4 linked regions of the Homo sapiens genome follow. The protein of the gene in region 1 purifies or fractionates together with the protein of each later gene. This does not show direct contact. Each region holds a gene or a part of one and is shown on either strand. Other genes may lie near its edges. The genes, in order: MYCBP, KNSTRN, SPAG5 and OTUD4.

Evidence for each region.
Region 2: the proteins of MYCBP (region 1) and KNSTRN purify together in Homo sapiens (co-immunoprecipitation; 2 studies listed by BioGRID and IntAct, with this or other methods). This does not show direct contact.
Region 3: the proteins of MYCBP (region 1) and SPAG5 purify together in Homo sapiens (co-immunoprecipitation; 3 studies listed by BioGRID and IntAct, with this or other methods). This does not show direct contact.
Region 4: the proteins of MYCBP (region 1) and OTUD4 purify together in Homo sapiens (co-immunoprecipitation; 3 studies listed by BioGRID and IntAct, with this or other methods). This does not show direct contact.

Annotation. Positions count from the first base shown.
Region 1 is NC_000001.11:38,870,326-38,878,245, forward strand, and holds the start of MYCBP (C-Myc-binding protein), read right to left. Parts: upstream 3,024-7,920; 5' UTR 2,981-3,023; coding exon 2,966-2,980; intron 2,766-2,965; coding exon 2,693-2,765; intron 1-2,692. Other genes in the region: GJA9 (gap junction alpha-9 protein), read right to left, coding at 4,226-5,773. UniProt on the Homo sapiens protein: May control the transcriptional activity of MYC. Stimulates the activation of E box-dependent transcription by MYC.
Region 2 is NC_000015.10:40,385,700-40,392,723, forward strand, and holds part of KNSTRN (small kinetochore-associated protein), read left to right. Parts: intron 1-662; coding exon 663-795; intron 796-1,459; coding exon 1,460-1,507; intron 1,508-3,806; coding exon 3,807-3,912; intron 3,913-4,136; coding exon 4,137-4,230; intron 4,231-5,793; coding exon 5,794-5,855; intron 5,856-6,249; coding exon 6,250-6,324; intron 6,325-7,024. UniProt on the Homo sapiens protein: Essential component of the mitotic spindle required for faithful chromosome segregation and progression into anaphase.
Region 3 is NC_000017.11:28,589,021-28,596,044, forward strand, and holds part of SPAG5 (sperm-associated antigen 5), read right to left. Parts: intron 4,047-7,024; coding exon 2,962-4,046; intron 2,853-2,961; coding exon 2,678-2,852; intron 1-2,677. UniProt on the Homo sapiens protein: Essential component of the mitotic spindle required for normal chromosome segregation and progression into anaphase. Required for chromosome alignment, normal timing of sister chromatid segregation, and maintenance of spindle pole architecture.
Region 4 is NC_000004.12:145,135,582-145,142,605, forward strand, and holds part of OTUD4 (OTU domain-containing protein 4), read right to left. Parts: intron 6,754-7,024; coding exon 6,615-6,753; intron 6,059-6,614; coding exon 5,798-6,058; intron 4,411-5,797; coding exon 4,370-4,410; intron 3,070-4,369; coding exon 1,849-3,069; 3' UTR 1-1,848.

The sequences.
Region 1 (7,920 bases):
GACAGAGACCTTGTCTCGAAAAAATATATATATGTAAATTAAATTTGTGAGGCTGGGCACAGTGGGTCACGCCTGTAACGTCAACACTTGGGGAAGCTAAGGCAGAAGGATCACTTGAGGCCAGGCATTCCTGGGTGACAGAGTGAGACTCTGTCTCAAAAAAAATAAAAAGTAAAAACAAATAGAGGCCGGGCGCGGTGGCTCACGCCTGTAATCCCAGCACTTTGGGAGGCCGAGGCGGGTGGATCATGAGGTCAGGAGATCGAGACCATCCTGGCTAACAAGGTGAAACCCCGTCTCTACTAAAAATACAAAAAATTAGCCGGGCGCGGTGGCGGGCGCCTGTAGTCCCAGCTACTCGGGAGGCTGAGGCAGGAGAATGGCGTGAACCCGGGAAGCGGAGCTTGCAGTGAGCCGAGATTGCGCCACTGCAGTCCGCAGTCCGGCCTGGGCGACAGAGCGAGACTCCGTCTCAAAAAAAAAAAAAAAAAAAAAAAAAAAAACAAATAGAATTGTGTAAAGCACCTATGTTTGGAGCTGAAAATCAAATTTTTAATAAATCACATCAATACTGTGTTGGCTGATGTTATTTAGGAGCCTGGAAATCTAAGGAGATTGAGAGGTTAAATTCTAGTGGAGGGCGGTGGCTCACACCTGTAATCCCAGCACTCTGCGGGGCTGAGGTGAGCGGATCACCTGAGGTAAGGAGTTCAAGACCAGCCTGGCCCATGTGGTGAAACCGCCTCTCTACTAAAAATACAAAAAATTAGCTAAGCATGGTGGCACATGCCTGTAATCCCAGCTACTTGGAAGGCTGAGGCAACACAATCGCTTGAACCCGGAGGTGGAGGTTGCAGTGAGCCGAGATCATGCCGCTGCACTCCAGCCTGGGCAACATCTTCTGTGTAGTCAGTTACCGCCTACAACTGTCATTTTTCTGCCTTTTACCATTCAGTCTTTCACTTGCTCCATCCAACCACTCTGGCCTCCTTAGACTTCCTGAAACTCTGTTTCTTTCAGGTTTCTGGTCAAAAATTACTTCTTAAGAAAGGCCTTCCCCCCATCACCCTATATAAAATGACACACACATCCCACCTGTCACTTTTTTTTTTTTTTTTTTTTGGAGACAGAGTGTCACTGTTGCCCAGTGGCACAATCACAACTCACTGCAGCCTTGACCTCCTGGGCTCAGGTGATTCTCTCACCTCAGCCTCCACAGTAGCTAGATTACAGGCACACACCATGCCCAGCAATTTTTTTTTTTTTTTAAGAGATGGGAGTTTTGCCATGTTGCCCAGGCTGGTCTTGAGCTCCTGGCCTCTAGCAGTCCACCCACCTCAGCCTCCCAAAGTGCTGAGATTACAGGCATGAGCCACGTGCCTGGCCTCACCTGTTACTCTTTATCCCTAACTTTGCTGTATTTTTATCTGTACCACTTACCACTAGCTGACACTACATATTTATTTATGTATTTCTCTCCCTCAACTAGGATATAAGCTTATGAGAGCCGAGACTTTTATCCTCCCCTGCTTATCTCCAGTGTGCAGAACAGACACCTGAGTAAAATTATTAAATGAAAGAAATGAACGTAAGGAGTTTTTAGACGGAATGACATTCAAAGCATCTGTGACACTTTCAGAGACAACATAGCACAGTACTTTCACAGAGTAGTCCCTTAAGACTTGCTGAAGTTTATTTGCAAAGAGGTAAACTATTATCTGAACCCCAAATAGGTAGCAATTCAAAATTACTAGCCTTCTTTCTTCTAAGACCCAGGAGTTATGCTCCTAGAATTTTCCTCTAAACTTTGCTTCTGTCCAAAGGGCAGTTACCAATTTATTTCCCACTTCCCAAACTTCCTAGTTTCATATGACCCAAGTCCTCATCCCTGCGAACAATTCCATTCTACACCCTTGAATATCCCAGTGAGTTGAGTGACACATAGCAGGCATTCAAATTAGTGCTAAGCCAATAAAGTAAACTGTACCCTACCCCTTGAAATCCTCCTGTTTCCAACACTTTACTCATCTACTTAACTTAGATCTTGAAGCCACGAATGAAGAGATACAGCGTTAACAGTAAGCTTTCATTTTAAAAAGTGAAAACAATGTAACCACCTTGATATGCCCTCGAGCTCTTTAAGCTGTAATTCTACTTTATGAAATATACACAAAATAAGAATTGACACAGACAGACTAAGGAATGGGGGCTGAAAAGCCACAGCCAAATTCGCTATGAATCTCCTACTTTGGGGATTAGGCTCACTCAGCTACTTCATAGCCCACTTGGAAATTCGGTCATTTTTCCAGTTGCTCTTTGTTGGAGGGAAACTTTCTTAACAAGATTCTGAGGACTCCATAAAAACCGTAAGGTGGGAGGAATTGGGATCTGAAGGTCCTTGGCAAACATGTCCACTGCGGCTGCTGGAGGCAAAGCAACGGAAGTTGAAGAGACTTTGCAACAGCTGCAAGAGTTTCACTCCCGGTGCGGAGAAGGGTAGCGGAGCTAGGCTACCCCACCCGGGCGGCGTCCAGCAGCCAGGTCCCTGCTGAACCCCGAGGCCCACCTCGCTGGACCCCGGACGGGCCCCATCTGTTTCCCCTCCTTCCCCACGCTACGGCCCGCTGGGGAACGGGGCAGCGCCGGGGAGCACGACGAGGGCACGAGGTACCCTCTCCTAGCCCAGGCTCACCCTTGGTCAGCGTGTCCAGCACCCCCGACTTCTCCAAGTACCTCCGGAACTGCTCACGCTTCGAGTCGGCGGCCTGAAGAGACACCGGGGGTCAGTGGCCAGAGCCCGGGAGCCGAGCAGGAAGAAGGCGCTGGGAGTCCGGCAACCCCGCCTCCGCCTCACTACCTCGGGGCCCTCCCGCCCAAACCTGCGCGCGCGACCCCACTCCCACCCAGAGCCGACCAGCGGCTTGCTACCGCCCGCATGCCCCCAGCCACGCCGCGCCCCCCTCACTTTGTAATGGGCCATAGTGACAGCGGCAGCGGCGTAGCTGGCGCCGGAGACCGCGACTGGCGGGTTGGGAGCAGCACTGCTCATGCGCGGAAGGGGGCGCGCGCCTGCGCACTTGCAAACCACCGGCCGGGATCGCCGAGGTGTGGCCTGTTTTCATGGCGACCAGGACGCTCTGCATCCCCAGTAGCAGGCTGAGCCGAGGGAGGCTGCGTATGCCCGCCCCTCTGGCTGTCGGAGCCGCACCTCTTCCTCTTCCGGCCCCCGTAGCAATTAGGTTTCTTTGCAGGAGGTGAGATTTTGGTACCTCTGTCCTGGCGTCCGGAGGCAGGGCCCGGGAGCATTGAGACTATTGCGAGAGAAAGGACCGCCGCACGGTGGTAGCGAGCGCATCTTTTTCATCTGGGACCTCGGAAACTGTGGTGACCCATAGGTGCTGGGCTTCTTGGCTCTCGTCCTGAGAAAGTGCTCACAGTGCTTTGCAGTAGCCGAGGAGGGTGTTTAGAATCATATATTTTGGCTTCAGCTTTTATCTTTGGAGTCTCCTTGAGTCGTGGCTGACTTGATGTGGGCCTCTGGAGGATGAGCAGTAACGAGCTTGCAGTAGCTTTTGAGCCAGGCACTGTAGAAAACACGGGTATTTTAAATTTTAATCCTTACAACACCCCTGTAGGGTGGGTATTGTTAATTAAGTGGAGTGGTTAGATGTCCAGTGAGTAGAGTCGAGTCCAATCCGGGCAATGAATCACGATGCTATGAACTGGTGAAGGAAAGCCACGGATCTTCTTAAGATTTTATTTACTAGGTAGCAACATGTGATTATACTCAAGACACATCAGGATGCCAGTCTAGAAGGAAACTTACGTGATTGTGTTCCAGGGGCAAACAGAATTAACCCAGTGTCCAAGGTGGAATTGTATAGATCAAGAACCATTTCCTAAGGCTGTGGTCTCTTCAAAGAGAAAACCTGATCAAACCATTTAGCCTCAATTCTGAACATGTGATTTTCCCAAAATCAGTTACATTCGAAAGGATATCATTTAAAAAAAAAAAAATCCTGATTTGACAACTCTATGTCTTTGAATTTAGAAGTGTTGCTTCACAATCTCGAATTAGAGCTGTTTTTCTCTTGCTTAAATGAGTTTGCAGTTGTCTGTCTTAACAGCTGGTCTTTAGAGCTGCCCCTATCTATTTTTTCTGTGCCCCACGACCACTAGGCTACTTCTCTGATAATATATATAATGTCTAAAAGCCAACCGCTGTTTAGATCTGAAGATCTGTGGGAACCCGCCTACCAATGAGATTGTTCGTTAGGGACACTACGTGATTTGGAGGACAAACAGGATTATTACAGGTTCTGACCAACCCTGGCTCAAAGGACAGCCCTCCCAAAGAATCAGCAGTGTTTGGAATGTCAAGTGATTGAGAATCTCCTTGTGAAGGAGGAAGGGTTCTGACTGTGCCCTTTCTGAACTGGCCCTTGAGGTTACCTTTAGGAGGTGACCCCCGGTTTTCATGTTCTGTAGAGGAACCCCATGTAGCTCTAAGCCACCGCGGTTTCCAATCGCAGTTAGCTGGCAAGGAGAAAACTGTTTGGGGTGACTGCCTCATGTTGTTCTCTCCATCTATAGCAACACCTGGAATAGAACGGTGACCTCTAGAGTAGTAGTTCCTTTTGCTGTCTTTGCCTTCAGTTTCTCTTTTTTCCATTAACTGGTTACCATTAAGTTCTTTTCCAAATATTTTATGAGTGTCTTTGTTATTGTTTGAACTGATGTGTTGAAAATGACTACAACTAGTACTAAGTGTGGAAATCTCATTAGAAAGTACAGTTTCCTGTTCATCCAAAATGCATTTCTCATCATTTACACTATGATTGTCAGGATTTGGCTGGAATACAGAAGATGAATTTAAACTAGGGTACACTGCAGTGTGTGTTTGCTTTTCCACTAACAGATTATAATCAGGGGCAGAAGGGAGTCGCTTCAGTGAATTTGCAGATGTGCTCTGGTATTTGGCTACATTTTGTTTTGCCTTGTTTGCATGGAATTCATTATGTTCCTTCTTCAACTTGTATTTTCCCCAAAGCCCTCTTTTAATCTTTTTAAAACCTAGGTGGAAAATTTCAAGAATGTTTAAGAAAAGTGAAATAGTGGCTATAGATTGCATAAATAATAGGAATATTGTCTTTTCTGTTGGTCTTGAGACAAAACAGTCGATTATATTTGGACACGGGTGGCCATGGCACTTAAATAGCGGCTCTAAGTGAAATCCATATAAAAGGTACTGTCCAATCATGAATCCAACTTCAACCACAGAGCGAGTGAAAATGTGTATCACATAAGTGCAAAGCAAGGTTCCTCTGAGTGGAGCTTTATTTAGTTTCCTTTTCTCCAGCTGACAAAGCTCTTGCTCCAATCTCCTCCGATCCCTAGGCATTTCAAACTCTACCTCCTCCAGTTCTACTCTTAACTGAGCTTTCATCCTTTGCCTCTCTTCCTCAAGAACTCTCAGTCGGTACAATGCATGGCCCATGTAGACCAGGGATGGTGAAGACACAAATATCACCTGCAGAACCCAGTATCTAATGAGGGAGATAGGAAAGGCCTGGTCGTAGCATACATTTCTGCAGCCTGGTTGTTCTGTATTGCAGATGAAGCCAGACTGCTCATCATTCCAGACATCTTCAGCTGCTACACCCAGAACAAGCATTCGAAATATGAACAGGATGGTGAGCCAGATCTTTCCAATCATGGTGGAGTGGATGTGAACTTCCTCCAGAGTATCTCCAAGGAGATTCCAGTCCCCCATGTTTATTTAGTCAGCCATCTTAGCTCTGATCCACATCAAATAAGAGGCAGATAAATTCTTCCATTCTGAAGGGAGCACTATTTCTTAAAGCAAACCTATGGTGAAAATATAACAATATGTCACTTCTATATGCTGGTTGCTTTACTTTTTCCCTAGATAGCTGTGGGGTTTTTTCTTTGTTTGTTTGTTTGTTGAGACAGAGTCTCCCTCTGTTGCCCAGGCTGGAGTACAGTGTTGCAACCACAACTCCCTGCAGCCTCAACCTCCCAGACTCAAGCGATCATCTCCCCTCTCAGCCTCCTGAGTAGCTGGGACTGCAGGTGTGTGCAACTACACCCAGATAATTTTTTTTATTTTTTTGTAGAGACAGGGTCTCACTCTATTGCTGCAGCTAGTCTTAAACTCCTAGACTCAAGTGATCCTCTTGCCTTCACCTCCCAAAGTGTGGGAATTACAGGTGTGGGTCACCACACCTGGCCAAAGTGTGAATCTGTTACCAATAATATACTTAAATGTCAGGAATTTAAAATCACTTATATTTAGACATCACAATACAATGAAAAAAACATGATACCTGGAGGAGGAGTGTATATATTCTCTATTAAGAATATAGGCTGGGCGGGGTGGCTCACACCTGTAATCCCAACACTTTGGGAGGCCAAGGTGGGTGGATCATTTGAGGTCAGGAGTTCCAGACCAGCCTGGCCAACATGGTAAAACCCCGCCTCTACTAAAAATACAAAAATTAGCCAGGCGTGGTGGCAGGCGCTTGTAGTCCCAGCTACTCGGGAGGCTGAGGCAAGAGAATCGCTTGAACCTGGAAGGCAGAGGTTGCAGTGAGCTGAGATCAAACCCTTGACCTCAGATGATCTGGCCACCTCGGCCTCCCAAAGTGCTGGGATTACAGGCATGAGCCAATGCGCATGGCCTAAAATTATATTCTTTTTTTTTTTTTTTTTGAGACGGAGTCTCACTCTGTAGCCCAGGCTGGAGTGCAATGGCATGATCTCAGCTCACCGCAACCTCCACCTCCTGGGTTCAAGCGATTCTCCTGCCTCAGCCTCCTGAGTAGCTGTGATTACAGGCATGCACCACCATGCCCGGATAATTTTGTATTTTTAGTAGAGATGATGTTTCTCCATGTTGGCCAGGCTGGTCTCGAACTCCTGACCTCAGGTGATCTGCCCACCTCGGCCTCCCAAAGTGCTGGGATTACAGGCGTGAGCCACCATGCCCAGCCTATTGTTGTTTTTCAACAGAACTTTTGGAAAGGTTTCTAAAACTAGTAACCTGATCTTAACCTTATTTATTAAGATTATTTGATATAAAAGTTATAACAAAGTCAATTTCTTTTTCCCCAACATGCCATTACTGGCTTGAAAAGTCAGTGATTTTTTTTTCTTTCTTTCTTTCTTTTGGGACAGAGTCTTGCTCTGTCGCCAGGCTGGAGTGCAGTGGCGCAATCTCGGCGCATTGCAACCTCCGCCTCCTGGGTTCAAGCGATTCCCCTGCCTCATCCTCCTGAGTAGCTGGGATTACAGGCGCCTGCCAACACCCCCCGGGATAATTTTTTGTATTTTAGTAGACACGGGGTTTCACCATGTTGGCCAGGATGATCTCGATCTCCTGACCTCGTGATCCACCCGCCTCAGCCTCCCAAAGTGCCAGGATTACAGGCATGAGCCACCGTGCCCGGTCAAAAAGTCAGTGATTTTTAAATCTCATTTATACACATAGGAAAACGAATATGCTTCATTTGATAATTCAGTAAGATATGGCATTCAGTGAAACCAGAGGAAACAGATCTGGCTGTCATAGGAATTTAGATTAGTTTTTTTAATCCAAATTGAAATAAATTTGAAATAAATTCTGGTTTCTTCCTGGCAATTGGTGAACATTTTCAGAAATTCATCTCAGTAATATTTATGAATATGTATAAAGTACTTATTATACTTTACTATGAAAAAGTATACTTTTTTTCTTTTTTTTTGGTGGGGGGAGACAGAGTCTCACTCTGTTGCCCAGACTAGAGTGCAGTGGCAGGATCTCAGCCCACTGCAACCTCCACTTCCCAGGTTCAAGTGATTCTCGTGCCTGAGCCTGCCAAGTAGCTGAGACTACAGGCAAGTGCCACCACGCTTGGCTAA
Region 2 (7,024 bases), on another chromosome or scaffold:
GCAGAGTGCTTGGAGGAGCTTAATGAGATGGTACAAGGATTCAGGCATGTTTTACCTGCTAACTTCCACCCTGCTCTCTGCTGGTGTCCATCTCCATGTTCACTTTTACAGCCTACACCTTTCAGTTCAATGAAACTTTTGGCTACCCTCAAACATGCTGTACTGTCACGTTTAAATAATTTTGGTTTTTATTGCCAATTAGCCTGGAAGTTTTATTCTTTTGAATTAATCTTCACATGTTGAAATTTGCCAGAATGAAAATAAAGATTTGGCCAGGCATCGTGGCTCACGCCAGAGTGGCCAAGGCAGGAGGATTGCTTGAGCCCAGGAGTTCGAGACCAGGCTGGGCAACATAGTGAGACCCTGTCTCTATTTTTAAAATTTTAAAACATATTTGAGGTGCCTATAGTCCAGCTACTCGGGAGGCTGAGGCAGGAGAATCGTTTGAACCCAAGAGGTGGAGGTTGCAGTGAGCCAAGATCACACCACTGTACTCCAGCCTGGGCCACAGAGCAAGACTCTGTCTCAAAAAAATAAATAATACTTTTTAAAATAAAGTAAAATAAAGATTTATGACAACTTCGAATGGGGCTCTGTTTGTTACAGGGTTGCAACTGTCGGGTCATGATGCCAGAAGCTTTACCTCTCATTTTCCTTTGCAGACACACAAACTCGGGCCACTTCTAAGAGTCTCTTACCTGTTAGGTCCAAAGAAGTCGATGTTTCCAAACAGCTTCATTCAGGAGGTCCAGAGAATGATGTTACAAAAATCACCAAACTGAGACGAGAGAATGGGTGAGAACGGATCATTAGTATCCAGTTAGAACATCTTCCTAGAAATTGCTCAATACAAAGAATTAGAAAACAGAGTTTTGGACAACACAAGTCTCCTGAACAACTGGCCTTCAATCAGTGGCCCAGAGCAGTGCAGCATTGCTGAGCTCTGTGCCAGAACCCTCTGTGTTGATCTTTCTGAAGAGACACAGCCAGAGTTATAAGAGGTGTTCTTTCCTCTTTCATCGCTTGCTCTGAGCATACAAGTGGCAGCACTGTAGTCATACAGCAACCCTGAGGGGTAGTCATGCAGGGTGGGGACTAGTTGTTATCCTAGGTTGCTGCTCTGACCACACAGTCCAGCCCTAGTGTGTGTGTATGTCCCCAGCCAGCAGTCAGTTCCAGGTGAGTGAGGTTGACATGAGATAGCCACGCCATCTTGAGAGGAACAGCTCTGTCAGGTTGTTAGGGTGGTCGGAGGCATGCCCCTTTGCTACTAAAAAGCCTTTTCAATAATCTGTGCCGAAGCAGTAATGCATAGTCTCTCAGAGCTCTTAAGCTTGTGCCATTTGCCTTTTATGTCTGGTTCTTTCCTCAGAAACTCAAGCTCTTTGTTCTGCCTGTTCACAGCACACTTAACAGTACTGTAAGTCTCTGATTCATTTCTTTGTTTCTGCCCTCCTAGGCAAATGAAAGCTACTGACACTGCCACCAGAAGGAATGTCAGAAAAGGGTGAGCATCAGGGTAAATCAACTTGGCCACTATTCTAGGGTAGTGGATCTCAATCCTTGGTTCTGCATCAGAATCATTTGTGGGACTTGTTTACTGTGTTAGGGTCTGGGTTCCACCTCAGGAACCTGAGTGGAATTTTCAGGGGTGAGGCACAGCTAGGTGTAAGAACCATTGTCAGTGCAAGAATCACTGGTGCTACTATCTTGTGTCTCAAGCAAGAGCTTTTTGGACTCCACGCCAGGACCACTGCTGATTGGAAATCACACTTAGCTATGGCCCATCAACAGGAGGGTAAAGCCTTCAGGAGAGGAAGGGCTGGGTGTATGTAGTTAGTGATCTCGAGATGAAGATTCTGGTGGTGGTGGTGGTGAAAACCTGGAGAAGGATTCATGTCTCATCTTTGAGGCTAGTTTGGAAGTTTTGCACTATCAGAAATAGAAATAATAAGCTGAAAAGTCTGTACAAATAGGTTTTAGTTCCAGATCTATTATTTGGGCATATCTTAAAAGTTTTGAAGACAGCAGGGCACACCAGCTCACACCTGTAATCGCAACACTTTGGGAGGCCAAGGTGGGTGGATCACCTGAGGTCAGGAGTTCGAGTCTAGCCTGGGAAACATGATGGGACCCCATCTCTACTAAAAATACAAAAATTAGCCAGGCATGGTGGCGCATGTCTGTAATCCCAGCTACTCAGGAGGCTGAGGCAGGAGGATCACTTCATCCCGGGAGGCAGAGATTGCAGTGAGCCAAGATCACGTCATTGCATTCCAGCCTGGGTGACAGAGCAAGACTCTGACTTACAAAAATAAAAAAGTTTTGAAGACAAAATACTAGCAAAAAAGACTGAGAACTTTAAGAAAAAACTCTAATATTGGTTGCTGAGACCAGCTTGGTCGGGGAGACCCTAACCCAGCGGCGCTAGAGGAATTAAAGACACACACACAGAAATATAGAGGTGTGAAGTGGGAAATCAGGGGTCTCACAGCCTTCAGAGCTGAGAGCCCCGAACAGAGATTTGCCCACGTATTTATTAACAGCAAACCAGTCATTAGCATTGTTTCTATAGATAGTAAATTAACTAAAAGTATCCCTTATGGGAAATGGATGGGCTGAATTAAAGGAATAGGTTGGGCTAGTTAACTGCAGCAGGAACACGCTCTTAAGACACAGATTGCTCATGCTATTGTTTGTGGCTTAAGAATGCCTTTAAGGGCCGGCGCAGTGGCTCACGCCTGTAATCCCAGGATTTTGGGAGGCCGAGGCGGGTGGATCTCAAGGTCAGGAGACCATCCTGGTTAACTATGGTGTTTCACCGTCTCTACTAAAAATACAAAAAATTAGCCAGGCATGGTGGCGGGTGCCTGTAGTCCCAGCTACTCGGGAGGCTGGGGCAGGAGAATGGTGTGAACCCAGGAGGTGGAGCTTGCAGTGAGCCGAGACCACGCCACTGCACTCCAGCCTGGGCGACGGAGCGAGACTCCATCTCAAAAAAAAAAAAAAATGCCTTTAAGTGGTTTTCCGCCCTTGGCAGGCCAGGTGTTCCTAGCCCTCATTCCCGTAAACCCACAACCTTCCAGCATGGGCATTAGGGCCTTTATGAACATGTTACAGTGCTGCAGAGATTTTGTTTATGGCCAGTTTTGGGGCCAGTTTATGGCCAGATTTGGGGGGCCTGCTCCCAACAATTGGTGATATTAGAGTTTATTAGATGATAAACTAACATTAGATAATAGCCCAGCTACTGGGCTAAGAAATGCACACGTGTTTTCTCTCTTATTACTCATAATAATAATACTATGAGATGTGGGTATTGTCCTGATTTCAAAAATGAGGAAACAAGGCCTCAGGGAGGTTATGCAACTCACTGAAGGTCATATACCACTGTGTAATAGCCAGGATAGAATGGGACGTGTTTGTGTAACTCTGTAGGCCGTATTTTTCTTTCTTTTTTTTTTAGACGGAGTTTTGCTCTTGTTGCCACCCAGGCTGGAGTGCAATGGCGCAATCTCAGCTCACCACAACCTCCGCCTCCTGGGTTCAAGCGATTATCCTGCCTCAGCCTCCCAAATACCTGGGATTACAGGCATGCGCCACCACGCCTGACTAATCTTTTGTAATTTTAGTAGAGACAGGGTTTCTCTTATCTTGGTCAGGCTGGTCTTGATTTCCCGACCTCAGGTGATCTGCCTGCCTCAGCCTCCCAAAGTGCTGGGATTACAGGCATGAGCTACCGCACCTGGTGTGGGCCATACTGTTAACCCTTTTATCTTTTCATGTAAGTACAACTATTATTACAGCTACAAACCACTGAGTAAGCAAAAATCAGAGGAAGAGCTCAAGGACAAGAACCAGCTGTTAGAAGCCGTCAACAAGCAGTTGCACCAGAAGTTGACTGAAACTCAGGTAAGAGACCCACCAGAGCTCTGTTACCAGCTGCCACTGGGCGATCCACATGGAATCCTGATGGGTGGCCCCTTGGATGAGCAAGCTTGTTAATGCACAGATGCCCAAGGGCAGAAAAAAAAAGCCAGGCTTTTGCTATGGCTGTCCAAGAGCAAGGGCAAGAAAGGGCAACCACCCCTAGGGAGTTGGACAATTCCTGATCTGTCTGTGCTGTGCTCCAATAGGGAGAGCTGAAGGACCTGACCCAGAAGGTAGAGCTGCTGGAGAAGTTTCGGGACAACTGTTTGGCAATTTTGGAGAGCAAGGGCCTTGATCCAGGTAAGAGACAGCACACAGCTAGCCTCCTTTGAAGGAATTGGTGCATGTGCCCCTTCCGGGGTTGATCTTGGCAGCATGGCATCAGCTGGCCCAGTATGTGCAGGGGTTACTTTCATAAAGCCCTAAAGATTTTGGAAAGCTTCTGTTTGTTTTCATGTGATGTTGATTTTTGCCTGGCCAATAGGATTTCAGATGATTATAGAGAGAGGGTTATCTCTTTCTTACCTGAACACTTTATGCCATTCATTTAGTGCCAACAGGTATGACCTTGCAAATAGATGAGAAACACTTTGTTCCTTTCAAGGGAGAACATTTTCTGTCTCTTCCTATTTGGGAAAGTTACTAGTGTGCTTGAAAGGAACATTTTGTTTGAACATGCTCTTCCTTTCAAGCATACTAGTAATCCCAAATGGGAAGAGAAAGAAAATACTATTTCAAGCATTCTTAAACCTGGTTAATCATCAGAATTACAGTGACTAAAATATGACTACTATTCTGACCCTGTCCCCCAGAAAGCAGTATCTGTAGCAAAGAGAGCAGAAGAAGGAATTGCCCAAAGACTGTAAGAGGGCCTCAGACTGAGTCAAAGAGCCAGAGAATGCCCAGGAAAGGGGCCCAGGCCTTTTTGTATTAAGGAATACTGACTTTGAATGTTACTGGTTAATCTTTAGGTTACAGTTGAGGATATTCTTTTTTTTTTTTTGAGATGAAGTCTCATTCCATTGCCCAAGCTGAAGTGCAGAGGTGTGATTTCGGCTCACTGAAACCTCCTCCTCCTGGGTTCAAGTGATTCTCCTGCCTCAGCCTCCTGAGTAGCTGGGATTACAGGCGTGTACCACCACACCCAGCTAATTTTTGTATTTTTAGTAGAGATGGGGTTTTGCCATGTTGGTCAGGCTGGTCTCAAACTCCTGACCTCAAGTGATCTGCCTGTCTCGGCCTCCCAGAGTGCTGGGTTTACAGACATGAGTTACCATGCCCAGCCTAGGATATTCTTTATAGTCACCATAAATATATATGTTTTTAAATTTAAAATTGTTTATTTTTTTGAGATGGGATCTCGCTATGTTGCCCAGGCTGGCCTCCAACTCCTGGGCTCAAGCAATCCTCCCAAATAGCTGGGACTACAGGTGTGCACCACCACATCCGACACCATAAATATTTTGTATGATTTTAGTTTATTACATGCATGTGATATTACCGAAAGTAATAATTTTTTAAGGCCTGAAAGGCTCTTAAAAATAGCTTTGTGAATTGTGAACAAAACCAAAAAAAATCCAACCTATACATTTCCTTTGGACAAATTGTCCACTGACCTAAGGAGAAAGTATACCGAATTTTTGGCCATATCAAAACCTAGATTGAAAGGAGATAAAATACAGTTTTGCAGGGCAGATATGGGTGACCCTGCCAAGGTGAAAACTTAGGAGAAAGTCCAGGATGAGACACTTAAGAGAAATTCCCCTCATGAATATTTCTGTACTTGTCCACGGAGGGTTTTTATTTTCTTTTGTTTAGGGTGTGTAGTTCCCTAAGTGAGATTGACTTTGTTGTATCCATCAGCTTTAGGCAGTGAGACCCTGGCATCACGACAAGAATCCACTACTGATCACATGGACTCTATGGTGAGGGCATGGGTGTGAAAGGGCGCAAGGGCTGAGTGACTGTGGGGCTCTGTAAATCTAAGAAGGTCTCTGCTATATATTCCATAAACTCCAAGAAACAGCCTTTGATTATCTGTGATGCTAGAAAAGAGAAATGGGATGTGTACTCAAAATAGCATATTTTACTTGAAAGGTAGCTTTGTGCTTACAAATATAAGTGAGTCTGAATTGAAAATTTAAAACACATAATAGGTAAACCTGTAGAGAGAGCTTTCTCGTTCTTCTGTTCTATACTTTATCAAATTTCTCTCCTGACTCCTTTGTTGAGAACTGTGTGGAAAGGATGTTAGCCATCATCTAATGCAAGTCTGGTTTTATATGAAGATTTGTTTACTACATTGTGCTTTCCTCTTAGTTGCTGTTAGAAACTTTGCAAGAGGAGCTGAAGCTTTTTAACGAAACAGCCAAAAAGCAGATGGAGGAGTTACAGGTGAGAGGCAGACATCACCCTGACCATTTCCTACCATGATAGGTAGATTTATAGTGGGGTCTTTTCTGTTTTTCTATTTATTTTTAATAAACTTTCTAAATAATTTTAGATTTATAGGAAAGTTACAAAGATAATACAGAAAATTTACCCTGATAGTAACGTGTTTTTTTTTTTCCAACTTTTAAGTTCAGGGGTACACGTACAGGGTGTGTAGGCTTGTTACACAGGTAAACGTGTGCCATGGTGGTTAGCTGCACAGATCATCCCATCACCTAGGTATTGAGCCCAGCATCCATTAGCTATTCTTCTTGATGCACTTCCTCCTCCACCCCCAATAGTAACATCTTACATTATCCTGGTACATTTGTCAAAACTAAGAAATCAGCCAGGCATGGTGGCTCACGCCTATAATCCCAGCACTTTGGGAGGCTGAGGTGGAAGGATTACTTGAAGCCAGGAGTTTGAGACCAGCCTGGGAAACATAACAAGACCCCATCTCTACAAAATAAAATTTAGAAAATAGCCAGGCGTGGTGGTACATACCTGTAGTCCCAGCTGCTCAGGAGGCTGAGGCAAGAAGACCACTTGGGCCCAGGAGGGCAAGGAGATAAAGTCTCACTGTTGTCCCCCAGGCTGGAGTGCAATGGCGTGATCTCGGCTCACTGCAACCTCCGCCTCCCGGGTTCAAGCGATTTTCTTG
Region 3 (7,024 bases), on another chromosome or scaffold:
CAAAAACTAAGTACCCTTAAGTTTAAATTGTTGCAAAGGCTGTAATGTCCAGCATATTACCAATATTGACAATTTAAAATAATTTTTTTTTTTTTTGAGACAGAGTCTTACTCTATCCTCCAGGCTGGAGTGCAGTGGCGCGATCTTGGCTCACTGCAACCTCTGCCTCCCGGGTTCAAGCGATTCTCATGCCTCAGCCTCCCAAGTAGCTGGAATTACAGGTGCCCTCCACCACACCCAGCTAATTTTTGTATTTTTAGTAAAGACGGGGTTTCGCCATGTTGGCCAGGCTGGTCTTGAACTCCTGACCTCAGGTGATCCTCCCGCCTCGGCCTCCCAAAGTGTTGGGATTACAGGTATGAGCCACCATGCCCAGCCTAAAATAAAATTATTAGATTACTCTTAAATATATCCAGTGGCATAAATACTACATACACCAAAATGATGAGATACCTAGTTGCTATCTTTTAAAAATACAAGAAAAAGCTCTTCTTAGCAGTCAGAAATTTTATTATGTCATCCCTTTTTCTCTTTGAACATATATTTTTTATTTTTCTCAGAATTTCAGCCTAATGTAATATATTTTTATGCTTTAAAGTATGTTATTAGCTGGGCACAGTGGCTCACACCTGTAATCCCAGTGCTTTGGGAGGCAAAGGCTAGCAGATCACTTGAGCCCAGGGGTTTGAGAACAGCCTGGCCAACATAGCAAAACCCCATCTCTACTAAAAATACAAAAAAATTAGGTAGGTGTGGTGGCATACACCTACAGTCCTAGCTACCCAGGAGGCTGAGGTGGGAGGATCACCTGAGCCAAGGAAGCTGAGGCTTCAGTGAGCCCTGATCGCAACATGGTACTCTAGCCTGGGTGACAGACCAAGAAACTATCTCAAAAAATAAAAATAAAATCTGTTATTAACCATCATCTCTGCAACAACAATGAAAGTTCATCTAAATTTAAATTAAAATTTCCTTTAAATTCCTTTGACCGGAAGGCTTTAAAGTGAAAAAGCTTTCTTTAGGATAGAGAAATCTTTTAATCAGTTGTATATTAGTCACTGTAATATAATTTCTAATAAAATAAACATGCTCGGCAAAATTTAATTGGGAATCACCTATTAATGAAATCGATGGAGATTCCTTCCCCTTATTAGTTCGTATATCTGTGGATTACTATAATTCCAGCAATAAGAAATAGTTCAGCAACAATTCGTGACTCTGTTTTTTGAGGCAGGGTCTGGCTCTGTTGCCCAGGCTGGAGTGCAGTGTCAAGATCTCAGTTCACTGCAGCCTTGAACTCCTAGCCTCAAGTGATCCTCCACCTCAGCCTTCCAAGTAGCTGGGACTACAGGCACACACCACCACACCCAGCTAATTTTTGTATTTTTTTGTAGAGATGAGGTTTCACCATACTTCTCAGGCTGGTCTTGAACTCCTGAGCTCAAGCGATCCTCCCACCTCACCCTCCCAAAGTACTGAGATTACAGGGGTGAGCCACTATGCCAGCTGACTCCTTTCCATTCTGACAGATGTAAACACTGAGAAATCTTCTTCACATAAACAACAGGGGCCAGGCGCAGTGGCTCACGCCTGTAATCCCAGCACTTTGGGAGGCTGAGGCAGGTGGATCATGAGGGCAGGAGTTCGAGACCAGCCTGGCCAACATAGTGAAACCCTGTCTCTACTAAAAATACAAAAATTAGCCGGGTGGGGTGGCATGCGCTTGTAGTCCCAGCTACTCAGGAGGCTGAGGCAGGAGAATCGCTTGAACCTGGGAGGCAGAGGTTGCAGTGAGCCGAGACCAGGCCATTGCACTCCAGCCTGGGTGACAGAGTGAGACTCCGTCTCAAAAAAAAAAAAAAAAAAAAAAAAACTAAAAGTATAATTGGATTGCTTGTAACACAAAGGATAAATGCTTGAGGGGACAGATACAGATACTCCATTTTCCATTTTCCATGATGTGATTATTGACCATCACATGCCTATATCAAAACATCTCATGGACTCCATGAATATATTTACCTAACTCTGTAACCACAAAAATTAAAAATTATTTTAAAAAATGTTTTAGGCTTATTCATAATTTTTCTTAAAATATTAAATATAGTCTACCAATGCAAAAAACGAAGAAAAAGAATACTTGTGGAAGATGATGATCTAAAAACCAATTCCTTTAAAAGTTTCCTTGCTTGCACTCCTTTGGAAAGTTCTGATGTACCCCAGGGGTAGAGTGACTACCCACAGCTTTAAGGGGATTTTCCAGATCCTCAGCTTTTTTGTTTTAAGAGACAGGGTTTCACTGTCTTGCCCATGATCATAGCTCACTGCAGCCTTAGCCTCCTGGGCTCAAATGATCCTCCTGCCTCAGCCTCCTGAGTAGTGAGGCATGCAAAACCATATCCAGCTGATTTTTTAAAAATCTTTTGTAGGGATGGGATCTCGCTGTGTTGCCCAAGCTGGTTTCAAATGCCTGGCCTCAAGCAGTCCTCCCACCTTGGCCTCCCAAAGCAGTGGGATTACAGGCATCAGCCATTGTGACTGCCCAGATTCTCAGCTTTTGCAAATGTTCTAAGTATAAGCCTGTGATAGGAGTCCCCTTTGCCCTCTGGCAGCTTCTCAGCTTAAATTCCAAGGATCCCCACTGGGATCCCTCAAGCTTTGAGAGGAACCTTCTTACCCCACTGTGAGATGTGTCAGTCTGTGTGCTACTGTCCTGGGTTTCTGGGTGAGGGACAGCCAGCTGGCTCTTCCAGTCCCGAAGCTGGCGGGAGAGAACCTCCAGAATGACAAGAGAGCTCAGCAGGTTATCTTCCAAGTCATGTCGAGACAAGGCAGTCAGATCTGGAGGCCGGCTGCAGCAGAAAGAGAAGAACATGACGAAAAGAAAAGGAGGGGAAGGGATGGGAGGGGAAGGTCCAGGGTAATGGAACTCACGAGGTGCAAGGACATAGGGGCGCTTACCCACACAGGAGCTGCTCTGTCTCAGAAGTACTGTGCTTGGTGCCAACCAGGCCTGTCTGGGATGTGTTTGTACTCTTTTCCTGTGGTGCTGAAGGAGTAAACCAAGTCCCCACCGAGCAAGTAGAGAAAGGGGTAGTGCCAATTGCAGCATCCCGAAGCATCGAGGGAAGGGATAAGCTTTGGCGGAGATTTTCCAGCATGACGGAGGTATTTACACCTTTTTCCAGCCAGGCCAGTGGGGACATCCAAGACTCTGTATCAGAGCCAAGAATCCTACCAACATCTTCTACTGCTGGGCCTGGAGCTTCTTGGGATTCCATTTCTACTAGATTTGGTGTCAGGCATGTGGACAGAATATCTTCCACACTTGAGACAAGTGCTTGATCTTCTGTTTCAGACTCCTTAGGATGTGTGGGAAACCTCATTTCTCTTTCCTCCATAGCTCCATGCTCTACAATTTCCTCCTCTGGGTCCACATGATTGACACGGAAATCTGCTGCCAAGGCAGTTGAAGGGGAAAGCCAGAGAACAGAGGAAGGCAAGAAGGCGTTACTTTCAGAAGGTACTAAGTCCTCACGCACAGCCTCAGTTCTACTGCTCAGGCTTTCCTTGGAGCAATGTAGTTGTTCAGAACAGGGATTTGGTGGAGACTCCTCTAAGAGATGGGACGGAGATTCCTGAAAGATAGGTTTCTCAGATACAGCAGCAACTTCTGAAAACCTGTCTCCCATGCAGGGTGCCACCTCCTCTCTCACCAGATCGTCTGTTCTCAAAGGTCCATTTAAAGATATGCTGTTTGTCTCTGCCATGGTATCTAAACGGGCCTCAAATATCATGTCTTGTTGCTGCCCCAGTGGAGATGGTACAAGGACGATGGTTTTAACCATATAATTGCCCAGTGGGTCTACTGCTTCCTCAGACGTTTTAGGAGTAGAGCTAATTTGGGGAATTGGATCTAGAGGCTGCTCATCTGATTCATGCTGACAAGTTTCTAGCCACTTTGAGGAATGACTGAAATGTTCTGAAGATAAGTCTGTCCTCTTGTTATTTACAAAATCCACTGGAGATGAGTTGTTGCTGCCTTCCTGCCAAAGGAAACAAAAGTAGTTGTCTAAGGCAGTCAATTCAGTTCCCGACATACAATTACAGGTGCAAGATAGTGCACTCAAAAAAGAAAAGAATTCTTACTACCTCTGCTTAGGTAAGAACTTGGCTAATCTTTGTTGCTCATATAGAGACCCAATAGTAGGGAAAGAAAAGCTGCTAAGCCATTTTGGGTCCTTCCAAGTGAACCAGCCTACATTATAAACAGGCTGAGAATATAGATCCATATCGTGGGCAGATGGTAGCTTGAAAGTGACCCCACTCATCTCCATTCTGAACTCTAACGCACTTCTAGATGAACAGATAGGAGGGGTCCATAGGGTGTGAGTGAAGGCTTAAGCTCTGTCAGAATCTAGAGTTGGTACAAGTTCTTCTCCCTCTCGGCTGGGCGCAGTGGCTCACGCCTGTAATCTCAGCATTTGGGAGGCCACAAGCAGGTGGATCGCTTGAGTTCAAACCTCATCTCTACTAAAAATACAAACATTAGCCGGGCATGGTGGTGCTGATGTGTGCCTGTAGTCCCAGCTACTCAGGAAGCTGAGGTGGGAGGATCACTGAAGCTCAGGGGGCAGAGGTTGCAGTGAGCCAAAATCGTGCCACTGCACTCCAGCCTGGGTGACAGAGCAAAACCCTGTCTCAAAAAAAAATAAATAAATAAATAAAAAAGGTAGACCCTAACAAAACAGAGCTGCTGGAAGACACAGATGATAATCTGAACAACAACAAAAAAAACGAGTACTTAAGCTTTAACTACAACATAAATACACACACAAAGACATTTTAGAAATAATAAATATTATTTTAAATAAAAAATGTCAGTAAAATGAATTGAAAGAGTAAATTATTAGAGTTGAAACTAGAATTACTGGCCTGGACAAGTGGAAGAAATATCTTAAAGCAAAGATAAAAATATAAAGAAATGTAAATCTGAAGAAAAAGCTAAGAGAATTAGAAGATAAACCCAGGATACCTAACAGTTAAATAAAAGAAATTCCAGAAGAGAACATATATACATGAGGCGCTGATTAACAAATATTAGAAGAAAACTACCCTAATGAAAGACCTGAGTTTGCACATTAAAATGGCTCACCAGTTTCTAAGCAGGACTGACTAGAAAAGATACATGCTAGACACATAATTATAAAATTTCTGTGCTACAATGAAGAAAAAACTATTCTGGAAGCTTTAGATAGAAAGTCCAATTATTTATTAAAAAAATAATCAAACAGACCGGGCGCAGTGGCTCACGCCTGTAATCCCAGCACTTTGGGAGGCTGAGGCGGGCGGATCACGAGGTCAGGAGATCGAGACCATCCTGGCTAACACGATGAAACCCCGTCTCTACTAAAAATACAAAAAATTAGCTGGCTGTGGTGGCGGGCACCTGTAGTCCCAGCTATTTGGGAGGCTGAGGCAGGAGAATGGCGTGAACCCGGGAGGTGGAGCTTGCAGTGAGCCAAGATCGTGACACTGCACTCCAGCCTGGGCAACAGAGCGAGACTCCGTCTCAAAAAATAATAATAATAATAATCAAACATATGAAATTTCTCATTTATATTAGTGGATGAAACAAAACCAAGGTTAGGTTAAAAAGGGCTTCTGATATTCTGGTACTGTCCTACTTACTGACCTGGGTATTAGTTACATGGATGTGTACTTTATAGTAATTTGTTATGCTGTTATGTTTTATTGTAATTTCATGTATCTTACTTTAATTTTGAAATTATTAAAAGGTATGATGGCTCACACCTGTAGTCCCAGCTATTCAGGAGGCTGAGGTGGGAGGACTGCTAGAGCTCAGGAGTTCAAGGTTGCAATAAGCCAAGATCACACCACTGCACTCTAGCCTGGGTAACAGAGCAAGACCCTGTCTCAAAAAAAAAAATAAAAAAGACAGGGCATGGTGGCTTACACCTGTAATCCCAGCACTTTGGGAGGCTGAGGCGGTCAGATCACAAGGTCAGGAGTTCGAGTGCAGCTGGGCCAACATGGTGAAACCCCATCTCTACTCAAAATACAAAAATTAGCTGGGCATGGTGGCGGGTGCCTGTAGTCCCAGCTACTCGGGAGGCTGAGGCAGGAGAATCGCTTGAATCTGGGAAGCAGAGGTTGCAGTGAGCCAAGATCGCGGCACTGCACTCCAATCTGGGCGATACAACAAGACTCCTTCTCAAAAAAAAAAAAAAAAAGACAATATAAAGATGAGTGTGTGTGTGTGTGTGTGCATATATACAAAATAGACACACATAAAGAGATGTATGAAAGAACTGTCAAATATGACATTTATCTAAGATACCAGAAATATTTCTTCCTTATACATTTATATATTCAAATGCTTCAAACAATTAATATCTATTAATAATCAAAAATTTACAAAACAGGCCAGGTGCAGTGGCCCACGCCTGTAATCCCAGCACTTTGGGAGGCCAAGGAGGGTGGATCACTTGAGGTCAAGAGTTTGAGACCAGCCTGGCCAATGTGGTGAAACCCCGCCTCTACTAAAAATACAAAAAATTAGCCAGGCATGGTGGCACGCGCCTGTAATCCCAGCTACTGGGGAGGCTGAAGCAGGAGAATTGCTTGAACCCGGGAAGCAGAGGTTGCAGTGAGCCGAGATCACACCACTGCACTCTAGCCTGGATGAAGGAGTGAGATCCTGTCTCAAAAAAAAAAAATTAGGCCGGGCGCGGTGGCTCACGCCCGTAATCCCAGCACTTTGGGAGGCTGAGGCAGGCAGATCACGAGGTCAGGAGTTCAAGACCAGCCTGACCCCCAACATGGTGAAACCCTGTCTCTACTAAAAATACAAAAATTACCTGGGCGTAGTGATACATGCCTGTAATCCCAGCTACTCAGGAGGCTGAGGCAAGAGAATTGCATGAACCTGGGAGGCGGAGGTTGCAGTGACCCTAGATGGCACCACTGCACTCCAGCCTGGGTGACAGAGCAAGACTCCGTC
Region 4 (7,024 bases), on another chromosome or scaffold:
ATGGCTTAAGCGGTACCTTCAACAACTATTCTAGTTAAGAAGGTGACAACAAATTCCTTTCAATAGGTTCTCTCAAGAAAAGTTTTCCACACAACCATCCCAGTCTTTACAATTTTTTACCTAGCACCATCATAATAAAATGTTATCTTTCAAAGTGCTCTCTAAAATCCTGTTACATTATCTAAATGCTAATCACTACTCAAATCAGCAGTTACACAGACGTTAGGTAATTAAAACAGCACAGAGGTAAATAACCATTATTACAGTACAGTGGCGATTCACTAGCCCAACTGGCATCCAAACATTCCCATAGGTTATCAGAGAACCCAGAAAACCCATCTGTTTCAGTTTGTCAAATTCAAGTGAATTGTATTTTCTTAAGTAATTTGCTTTACAAAAAAAGAAAGTCACCGCATCTGGTTTTGGCTAGGTATATTACACATGGCATGCAAAGAGAAATTACTACTATGTTATTTGCATAGCACTCAAACTTCCTGATCAGAAGATAATCTCAACATAATAAAAGAGTGGATTTTCACATTGGTATGCACAAATAAAGAATATAAGCTACAGTTATTTTTACAAAATAACACAGATGAATGAATACTGTGTTAATTCAGAGTTCAATCTCCAAATGAGAACAGAGTGCAACATGCAAAGGGAACCTCTAGTGAATACTGCAAAGACTGGAAGAAAACAGAATGTAAGATGTTACCTACCTAAGGGTAACAAGCTATAAAATACAAAGCAAAACCATTTTCTAGCAGCATCCTCTAGAAAAGAACTAGAAGTCACAATCATATTATCTTCTATACAATAGTTCCAGCCCTGACAAGTAGAACATGCAAGTGTAAAGTGAAAGTGATACACAACCAATGGTGCGGGGGGGGGGGGGAGGAAGAAAACAACTCTAGAAACCTGTCAAGCTAAAAATTTTTAACATTTCTTCTCACAAAATATTTAGAATCTGTCAGTGCATTAGTGTTAAAGTGGCATTAAAAAAACTTCTGCAGTTCTAACTGATGCAGATTATTTTCAAAATGCATAGCATCTACATTTCTTTCGAGTAGGCACCATGATATTTACACCAGTGCTAAGAATTCTTGGTGGAAACAGCCATTTCATTGGATTTCCTACTATTCTTCTATGCAATCTCAACAAATACCAAAATTCAAAAATATACCTTATGAATATTAAAAGAACTATATACAACATTGCTAAGACACAGTTAATAGGCTGCCTTATGTGAATATTAAAGAGAAGACATTATTCAAGTTTGACAGATATTGAGATGAAAGGCCTTTGGGTTGGAAGCATTTTAAAAGACAACAGTGTTTTAGGCTGAGAATTGTTTGAGCCCAGTTTATGACTAAGGCATTGCATAATAAAATATACATTTCTATTTGGTGCAACGTTATGTTTGGAATCTATAGTGTGTCAAATGGTATATTTTCTTGTCACTTTAGTAAACACTATAAAGCACACATTTCCAACATCTGAAATCAAACTTATAAACTTATAAGGAAAAAAGCCAAACACTAAATCTATAATGTTTTATATTAAGCTGTTTATAAAAAATACTTTAACAAACTTATCTTCTACTTTTTACGGGGACAGTCACTTGATCAACAAACAGATTCTGAATGAAGAAAACTGGCAATGCCAGGAATTAACCTGCCCCCTTGAACTCATGTCCAAAATGTCTTGTCCAGTATGGGAGTGAAGGTAAGGGGGGCTGGGGAGAGGAAAGAGTTCCAACTGCGGTTTTTACTTTATTGTATTTTTTTTAAAGCCTTCAGAAACATTCCACCTAAGAGTTTCTGTTAGAAAATACTTCGGCAACAACCATCAAGTGTGCTGTCCCCTATGGCCATCTCCCATCCCTGATCTCCTCCTATCTCCCCTAAATGGTCGCCCTCTGACATTTCGATGGTACTGATAACCTTCATCCCGACTTCTGCTTGGCTGTCCTTTCCAGGACTCCTCACTTCTCACATGTTGATATCCACCCCTACCAGAATAGCCCCAATCACTTTTGTACTTCCTGCTTCCATAAGTTTGATTATAGAACTGCTTGGATCTACCACTTCTCAAAATATTAGACACTTCATTTTCATCTTCTGAACTCTCTTCTTTTGGTCTTTGCACTCTGCTATCAACAGAGTTGGCCCCAGGGCTGACCACATCAGCAGCAGTCTTAGGATCTTTTACTTTTTCTGTTTTTTCTTTCAGGCTTTGAATGGTCCTTTTAGGTTCAAGTTCAACAGGCACAGTTTCTCTCTCTCTGTTTAGAATCTGAGTGGGAGGATGAGCCTTTCCCTCTGCTACAGGAGGGATGGAAGCCAATGCCGTATCTGCCTTTCGTGTCTGGGAAGATTGCTCTGTCCGGCCTTCGTCCGGCTTACTGCTCACACTTGCTTCAGGGAGAGAATGTACATGTTCACCCCTGGCTTCTGGAAACTCATCTACTGTTGAAACTGAACCACAATCTTTAGACAGATCCAGATTTTCCAGAGACAGATCCAATTCTCCTTTTTCATCAGAGGGCAGGACAATATTCTGCCTCATTACTGGATTTTCTATGAATCCCTGAAAAGGGTACCCATACCAAACATGAGGAAAGAAAGGAGGTGCAATAGGAACTGGGCCTAAGAATGGATTGGGTCCAAAAGATGGCTGGGGGAACATATTCTTGCCACTTAGTGACTCTTCATAATCAGCATGCAGAAGCTGCCCAGGGGTCTCAGATTCAAGATCAGCCTGGTAAGACAATTGTCCATGACTTTCAGACACCTGAGATGGAGGGATAACCAGAGGTGAAGAAAATGTCGGCGGTCCAATCTCTGGCTGTGGCATTTGACCATTAACACTGGCCTCAGTCTGCATAGGAAAGTGGGCATCAGTACAGGTACAATCACTTTCATTCTGAGCAGCAGGAGCCTCTTGGAACCAGGGATTATGAGGATAAACAGGGACAGGGACCTTTGGGTACATCCTGCAGGCTGCCAGGTAGGCCTGGTGCAGAGGGTACAGGTAAGAATGTGGGGCCCACATAGGACAACTGTATGCCTGAAGAGACAAAAAACAGTTAAATAAACAAAAGAGGAGAAAAAAGAGAGGTTTGGGTGGATATCAATCTACAAGTACTAGGGTCAAAATAAGTTTCTCATGCCTACAAAGACCATATAATCTATAGTCCAAATACTAAATCACTGTGATAACCAACGTGAAAATGAATTACAAAATTCACTGCTTTAAGACTCCATTGCTTGCTCCTGTCCTAAAACCAATCTGAAGTCCTCATAGGTTGATAGGAGATAGTATCTCCATCACTGACTGTTTAGCCAGACCTGCATTCACATTCGGGCTCTACCACTAACTCACTGTGTGACCCCATGCAGGCCAGTTAACATCTGAATTTGTTTTACTGGGAATGTCAGTATAAGAGTAGATGATCTCCAATGTCAGGACTCTGCAATTCTAGGAGCCCCCAAGAGTACTCCGAATGTAAGGATTAAGTTAGACCTCTAATCAGGGAGGGATAATGTTGAAAATGAAATATTCCAAATCCTTCCTCTGCAAGAGTTCAGCTAAAAACCAAAATATGAAGAAAGTATAACCAGCTAATTGGCTAACCAATTAAAATCAACATTAAATACATTAAAATTAAGCAATGCAGCAGATAGTAAAATAATCAAGTTTCTTTTTATGAAAGTGGTCAGCAGGCTAAAGGTAGGGCACTTCGTTTCATAGTTTAACTGTCTAGAACCCACAAAAACTAATCTAGGTCAGGAGAAAACCTAACATTTAACAAGGACAGAGTTCTCCAACCTAAGAAAAGCTATTTCTAGGTTGACCACTTCCCAAAGGATACCTCTGCTCTTCTAGTCAACAACCACACTATCTTACATAGGAGGATGTACACGTTATTTCCTTTGATCTTTTCAATAATGGAGGCAAGTAAAGAATATTACCCCCATTCTATAAATGAAAAAAGCTAGGCCCAGATACACTACATGGCTTGCCCAGGGAAATTCAGCTAAAGAGTGATGGAGCAGAACTTCAAGCCCAGATTTACATCTAATTATTCCCCAGCAAGGGCATTTCCACTAGGCTGCCCAAAGATGCAGCTATGTCTTAAATATACTCACAGGTTAAGCCATCACCAGTTAAGACAAAAAAGTAAGTAAAACTGGAGCCTCTACTAGCACCAAAAACAAACGATATAGTACTGAAAATGCTGGTTTTTAAAATGATGAGATTTAGTAAACTTTAGGTTACTGACTGACAGGGTAAGAGTTAACACTAGTAATAATTTAAAACACTATTAATGAATAAAATAACTTTTAAGATGATAAAATGTAAATACCTTCACACCAAGATTGAAGAAGAATCGAAGAATATTCTTATCTAAAAATAAAAGTAATCACTTGTTAAAATTATATATCTGCAGAGATTTTTTTAAATCATCCTCATTAAATATATAGTTCTAAAGACAATTTTACCTACTATAATTGTCTTCTCTAGCCTGTGATACAAAACATAGATAAAAACTGTAATATAACACAACCCAAAAACAGGTTGTTCCCAAAGGTTAATTCCAGATTCAATAGGCTTTGTCTGTTAGCATATAAATCCCAAAATGGCTTAGATTGAAATTTTTATCTCATTAAAACTGAATCTGGGTAAAGGACATTCAGGTGGCTTTCTTTCTCAACTTTTCTGGGGGTTTAAAAATTAGGAAATAAAAATGTTGAGAAGAATGGTAAAATCAACATAAAACCTAACTTATTAGTAGCATCATTTGCAGGATAATATTCTTCCAAGTATTCATATGCCATGAGCCAGTTACTCATAGACACAAACATCAAACTACTAACTAATAAAACAAAAACATCCACATAAATCCAGGTAAACAGCATATAGTAGTCAGTGCATTACTCAAATTTACAGATATAAAATTTTGGAAACTAAAAAGGAGGGAGGTGTAAATTCCTTAAAAATAAAGAGGGAAAGCAAACTTTGAAAGAATTTTTTAAACAAAAATAAGACATACTAAATATAGTACTTTAACAGCCACTACATACTATATTTGCTTTTCTCTGTAACTTTTTCACGGATGCATGTCTGAAATGCAGACCAGTGTTGATAAAGCTCCACAGTGTTTAGGTATCTAATTAGTGAAATTATTATTGTAATTCAGAATGGTTTCAAGTCCATTTATGTAAAAACACAGAAGGAGGTATCATTACTAAGCATACTAGCATTAACAAGTATGCTAGAAACAAAAAAAAATTTTCTGGGCCAGGCGCGGTGGCTCACACCTGTAAACCCAGCACTTCGGGAGGCCAAGGCACGCAGATTACGAGGTCGGGAGATCGAGACCATCCTGGCTAACACGGTGAAACCCCGTCTCTACTAAAAAATACAAAAAATTAGCCAGGCCTGGTGGCATGTGCCTGTAGTCATCCCAGCTACTCAGGATGCTGAAGTGGGAGAATTGTTTGAATCTGGGAGGTGGAGGTTGCAGTGAGCCGAGATCACACCACTGCACTCCAGCCCGGGTGACAGAGCGAGACTCCGTCTCAAAAAAAAAAAAAAAAAAAAATTATAATACATTTTCTAATAAATCAAGCTGAAACAAGAATGACTGACTAATAGCTAAAACTTTGCTGTCCTTCCCATCCTTGAGCTTACTAAGAAACCAGACCTCTGACCTCTACTTACATCTCTTCATTTCTTAACTAAGCTTATTTGGACTTGATAAAGTCGATTTGAACTTGGAGAAGGAGCTCACCTTTAGGTAGGTCCTCCCCAGTCTGACACAGTGAATAAGGTGGTACAATGGCTCGATCTCCCTTTTCATTACAAGGAAACCCAGGATAGAGTGGGTCTTGATAAAGGCTCAATGTCTGAGGCAAAGGCATCAAGGGCTGGTTAACTGCCTGTATTGACACAGGAACTGGAGAGGGTGTTAAATGAGCTTGGGATACAGCTGAATCAGGTCCAGTGGTCAAAGTCTGTGTCACTGACAAAACGGGAATTGGAGCAGGGACACCTACAAAAGAGAAGAAAAGGAATCAAAATGACAAAAGATGAAAATCTCTACAAATATGCTTACATTAACCTATAAAGAATGCTGTATAACTGATAAAGCCAATCTAAAGTAGTACCTTTTAGTATCAACCAAGAGCCCTCCTGGACACCAAGAAGGAAATACGTCCAGGATACAAGCTCTGAGTCAATGTCTTCTAATAGTAGCTCTTGCAGGCACGTGTAGGACATGGGGCTGGTCAAGGGGTTCATTACGGGGCCATAAAGAGCTGGCCCATGAAGGAAGCATCAAACCGTGGTGCTAATTAGTGCTGAGCAACCAAAGCAACCAGCTCAAACATCATGCTCCTGAGACTATGAGGGCATATGTCAGATGAATACAACACCAAATGTACATGGTCTTTCCACATTGGAAGCAGAGCAAAGCAGAGTATCACAGAAAGCTCTGTGAGGCTCCACACACCTAATCCTGCTCAGAGGTCAAACTTCCACTCAAGAATTTGAAGTCTCTGACTAGAAAGGTATTTTGGCTGGCTAGATTTTCTAAACCCTTCTCTAACCTGTTGGTCCAAAAGTTGTAGGTTCACTTGGCCAGGCTGGCACAGTGGCTGGTAAAGAAGGCACCGCAGGAGTTAGATGTACCTCTGGAGAAACTAGAAGGGGAGCTGGATTTGACAAAGACACATGTTCTGCTGGCTTCTTCAAGAAAGGGGTGAGTGGGGGAAGACAGAAAAAGACAAGAGGTCATTTTGCTTTAACACTATTTCTAACCACCAGATACATATTGAGTTGCCTGCCTTTTATACAAATGAAGTACAAATAGCCCTTATAGTCTTAGAAATGTAAGAAAAACACACAGTAGCTAAAGATAATATGCAAACAAATTTGATCCTAACCAAGGGTTGCCTACCAACAAGGACTGTATTTTTTAATACAGACAGGGTTTCACCCTGTTGCCCAGGCTAGTCTC